Linked DNA regions of Homo sapiens: region 2 is linked to region 1. The links come from fine-mapping of genetic effects on gene expression. Tissue or cell type: whole blood. Region 1 holds a variant in brackets; the other region holds the start of a gene. All regions are shown on one strand. Distances are between the middles of the regions.

What was found. PIP is the estimated chance that this variant, and not a neighbour inherited with it, causes the effect.
Region 2: NAIP starts here. The variant in region 1 is fine-mapped to the expression of NAIP in whole blood (TOPMed, PIP above 0.99). The same link has a PIP of 0.9 or more in thyroid.

What each region holds. Positions count from the first base shown.
Region 1 is chr5:71,378,928-71,381,694 of GRCh38, forward strand. The region is part of intron 2 of LINC02197 (long intergenic non-protein coding RNA 2197); the gene reads right to left. It also overlaps the pseudogene PMCHL2. Among named protein-coding and RNA genes, the nearest start is that of LINC02197, 66 kb to the right of the region's middle. The variant G/A (reference allele first, on the strand shown) is at 1,161.
Region 2 is chr5:71,023,925-71,026,557 of GRCh38, forward strand. It overlaps NAIP (NLR family apoptosis inhibitory protein), which reads right to left and starts at 1,415. Exons shown (of 17, transcript NM_004536.3): 1 at 691-1,415; 2 at 394-482. RefSeq lists promoters at 1-1,774, 1,179-1,543 and cis regulatory regions at 965-1,178, 1,544-2,633.

The sequences.
Region 1 (2,767 bases):
ACTATAAGGCAGTTTTTCCCATTGTGATGCTTTTGTCTACAATCTTAATTGTTAACTCTTCCAAAGAATAAACACACAATATATCAATTTTTTAACCCATTTAGGTAGAAATATGGGTATATAGAAAGGAAGAAAGCAAGGTTAACGGTGAGCAGTGGCTAAATGAACAAGAGAACATTCAGTTAAGTATCTCATCTCCAAAATGGTATAAACTGTGGCAGAAAGTACTTTGTTGAATCAATAGTTTCGAGACAGACATACAGTAGGGACATCGAAGGTACAAAATAGAGCACTGATGAAGGAGTGAATTATCATCTTCACAGATGAGTAGAGAAAGAGAAGGTCTAAATATTGAGATGAGAATATAGAAATTTCTGATGCACAACACAGCTCAGAAATTCAATCTGAATATATTCCAATTCAGTGCCTTGCAATAGATCCATAATGATCGCCTATCTTTCCAGCATACAAAGCAATGCATATCATTTAAACATTTTTCTAGCATGAAAATGTGCCTGGGTTATGCAATACACACTTTACCAAAATATGATTTTGGTGGCTGTAAGCACTTAATTGTAATGACCTGTAAAATGAGCAACATTTTTAACTCCGAAATTCTAATCAATATTAGTTAATGAGGTGTGTGACAACTTATAATGCTTTTAAATACTCTTAGTGGCCATCATAATACAAATTTTCCCACTTACAGCATATTTAATTTTAATCCTTGCAATAATATAAATGAAATACATCTAAAACACTTTATAGTAAGCACTCAAGTAAAAGTCCCCATAACATGGCCTTAAAAAAGGTTAATCTTTTAACAATGGGGTCATGAAAACATTTTTGTTATAGATATTTTTATGTTCCTCCTTGTATCAATCAGGATTAAATTTTCAAATATTCATACCATTTAACAACAGACTGAATAAATAACAAAGTTGTTAACACAAAATGAATAAATGTTTTGTATACATTAAAAATAGAAGATAGAAAAAATAACTTGGTAATGTGTTTAAAATATTTTATGGCCTCTACCCCATTATGTTATTCCATTTTCTCATAACTGTAGACCTTTAGCTACCAAACAGAGGGAAGGGGCATTGTACACTAGTTACCTAGAAAACAAATCATTTATAGGTCTTATTTTTGGAAAAGGA[G/A]ATATCTTTTAATTCAACTAAAATGTAAAACATTGGAAGTGTCCCCCTATCAAGGCTTAGTTTTACTATTGCTTAATATAGATGAAGAAAAAATAAATCATATACTAAACTCGGGAAGCTTGGGTTTTCTCTTAAAGTAAGCCATGCTGTGATTGTTCCATCTAAACAGTTATATCAACTTTACTTTGTATCATATGAAAACAACAGCCTGCTGAATGACTATGTATTGTCTATTTCCACCTGCTAAACAAGATAAGACCACATGAAATAGGATCAGCTTAGCCATTACCTTCAGGAAGCTTCAGACATATTGTTTATTGCAAATGGACATATATTATAAATGTATATACAGACACATCTTTGTGATATTACTTCCTGAAGTATGTTCTTATGGAAATTTAACTTTGTTCATCCAGTCAGATTTCCAGAAATGTATCTACTGTGACAATTAATATCTTATTCTCCAACTCTTTGTTTTTCTCATTCTGTACTTACTTTGCTTTCATCAAAGACATTTTAGCAAAATTAATTTCCAGGACCATTTTCTTAGTGAACTAATGCCATTTGATCACCAATGGCCATTTTCGTTTTTATCTCGAGGATCACATTGGGCATTTGTCTCTGACTTTTCAGTCAGTTTATAATGCATTCTTGTTCCCTTTGGAGGATGTTTGTTCTTTTTTTCTCTGCCCGCTCCCAACATTAAAATCCAAGGTAAACTCTTAATTAAGTGGAGTTGACAGAAGTCACATTTTCTCTATAAAGAACAATTGGAATCCACTGGATTTGCCCTATCAAGAAAAAAGAAAATCATATCTCCAAGAGTAGGTATTGGTAATTAATTAATCCCTAATCTTTTTGAAAAGTATCTGTATTAGTCCATTTTCATGCTGCTGATTAAGTCATACCTGAGACTGGGTAATTTATCTTAAAAAAAAAAAAAAAAAAAGAGGTTTAATGGACTCATAGTTCCATGTGGTTGGGGAGGCCTCACAATCATGGCAGAAGGCAAAAGGCACATCTTACATGGTGGCAGGCAAAGGCAATGAGAGTCAAGAGAAAGGGGAAATCTCTTATAAAATCATCAGATCTCCTGAGACTTATTCACTACCACAAGAACAGTATGGGGAAAACTGTCCCCCATAATTCAATTATCTCCCACCAGTTCCCTCCCACAAGATGTGGAATTATGGGAGCTACAATTCGAGATAAGATTTGGGTGGGGACACAGCCAAGCTGTATCATTATCAGATATTGTATTCATCTGGTAGTGGTCAGTAAATCTGTGCACAATCTCAGAGTTGGCTGATTTTTGCTTTTCCATCCTTGCTATCTCACACCAGTGGTTTCCATCCTAAAGTACACAAACCATGTTATTTTTCTGCTCTTTGATTTCCTAAGCAGTATACCAGCTACTTTAGGACTGTGTTCCTGTACAGTGCCCCTTTTCTTCACGACCACCTACAAATCTATTAAGTACTTAAAGACTTTTTTCCTGTGATGGGGATTTTGATGCTTGTTTGTTCTTTCTATGCCAATTTCATACACTTCTGAGTCTCATCCATATGTCCCAACTGCTCCCTCTAAAACTAAAAGCTACTATTTAT
Region 2 (2,633 bases), 360 kb before region 1:
TTAGGGTGGCCGGAGGCTGGGGTCAGTCCAGAAGCCTTCGGATGGCACCAGGAGGTAGCCCCAGCCAGAAATCCTCAGTTGCTCCAGGACCTCTTCCAGCCCCACACGACAGCTTGGTCCTCCGTGAAAGGAAACTGGTTCAAACATGGCCAATATGCCCAGCAGCCCGTGGGTATTGGGGGGTTCTCCATGTTCTCCCCAGCAAGCCTGTCCCCCAAAACTTGTAAGGCTGGCAGCCACGCTCATAATTTTTAAATGGCTAATTGGTGAAGGCAGAGTTTTCTCATTCACAGAAGCAGAAGGGGGCCCAGTATTTGGTTTGGTTTGATTCTAAAATGGAGGCCAAGAGCCTCGAAATCAAAGGACAGAGTTGAGGTCCGCCCCTTTACTCACCTTTGCAATGAATGCACCTTGGAATCCCAGACGAAGTCCCCAATATGAAGTGGCATTGTTGTCTGGGGTCAATACCCGGGGTTCGTCGTCTCGCACCAACAAGGTTAAGGACACGATACACACGAAGAGTGGGTTTAGGAGCGGAGGTTTAACACGCAAAAGAAAAAGGAGAACAGCTCTCTCCCTTGTGAGAGAGAGCGGCTTCCGAAAGGAAAATCCCAGGTTCGATCGTTTCTTATAATGGCTCACAGAACTCAGAAACTTTACTTATGTTTACTGCTTTATTATAAAGGATACAGATGAACAGGCAGTCGAAGAGGTACACAGGGCAACGTCCAGAAGGGTCCCAGGTGAGCACAGGACCTTTTGTCTTCATGCAGTTTGAGGTGCATCGCCTTCTTGGTATGTGGTTGGGGTTAACCAAACCGAAAGCTCTCCAAACCTGTGGTTTATTTTTTAATGGAGGTGCCATCACTTAGGCATGATTGGTTAAATCACTGGCAACTGGTGGTTAATCAATCTCCAGCCCTTTTACCCTCTCTGGAGGTCGAGGCGTGGGGCTGCAAATCCCAGACCTCTAATCATGCCTTAGTCTTTCAGGGGATAGCCCCCATCCTGAAGTTGTCTAAAGGATCCCAGCCACCAGTTAGCTCACTGTCATACACTCTTATCACTTGGAGATTCCAAAGGTCTTAGAAGCTCTTGTGTCAGGAACCAAGACCAAGTATTCTAATAAAAGATGTTTCTATCACCCCTGTCACTCAGGAAATTACAAGGGTTTCTGGAGATCTGTGCCAGGAACTGGATGAAGATCAAATATATATATTTATTATATCACAATATTGCAGCCTACTACTTGCCAGGCACAATTCTAAGCACTTTACATGTGTCCACTTAATTCCTTTAACAGTCCAAAATCAGCTATTGCTATATCATCTCCATATTACAGATAAGGAAACTCAAGCACATAGGGGTTAAGGTTAACCAGTGATCTGGCTAGTCTGTACTTTTACCTGATGTTGTGCTGCCATACAGACTAGATATATTTTTTTTTTTTTTAGACTGAGTCTTGCTCTGTTGCCAGGCTGGAGTGCAATGGCGTGATCTCAGCTCACTGCAAACCCAGCCTCCTGGGTTCAAGTGATTCTCCTTCCTCAGCCTCCCCAGCAGCTGGGACTACAGGCACATGCCACCTCGCCCAGCTAATTTTTGTATTTTCAGTAGAGACAGGGTTTCACCATGTTGACCAGGATGGTCTCGATCTCTTGACCTCGTGATCCGCCCACTTCGGCCTCACCAAATGCTGGGATTACAGGCGTGAACCACAGCACCCAGCCAAGACTAGATTTTTAAGAAAAGGCAATCCAGATATCCTAGAAGGTTCATTTCCTCTTTTTGGTGGTTTAGCAAATTTCTTAGTAAGGCTTCTAGCTGTTATAGCAGCATTAGTATGTGAACCACAGTTAAGCTCTAGTCCAACAAGGCCATTTCTTCAGCAGAGAAGCAATTGTTAAATAATCGACCAAGTATTCATTGGCTCCCTCTTTTTGTATCAACATACACAATTGTTACAGTGCCAGTGTTTATTGGAACCACTTTCCATGGTGCATCCAGCTGTGCCTAGACCAGCAGGTCTTTTTCCAGAAGTCCAGATGGCAGGGGAACCTCTTCACGTTGTTGACCCTTCTCCCTGTAATTTTTTCCCCAATAAACCTTTTCATTATGTTGCTGTATTTATACCCAAATACACATTACATTTATTTTAGTACCTTGTACATTTTGTTGCCCTTATAAATTGGAGGGGTTTTAAAAACTATTTTTTATTCTCAATATTCATTGATGATGTATAGGACTCCTTCTGGACTGTTTAATATATGACTGTAAATCCCCCTGAATTTTCTTAGATGTTTGTAGTATCTGATTATGACAGTTTTGTCTTTTATTTATTGCCTTGTTGCATTGATTAGGTCCTCTAATATAATGTTGCTTAATAATGAAGATAGATATCCTATCTTATTCTTGACTTTTGGTATAAATTCTTCTAAAGTTTGAGCATTAAACATGATGTTTGATGTAGATTCTTAGTGGATACTCTTTAGCAGTTAAAGTAACTTCTCTTTTACTTCCAGTGACACTACTACCTAATTTGAAGAGAGGATTTGGAATTTTGAGTTTCAAAATAATACTGTTTTCAAACACTTTTTTAGCTAAAAAGTACACACACATAGGGCAGTGTTTTA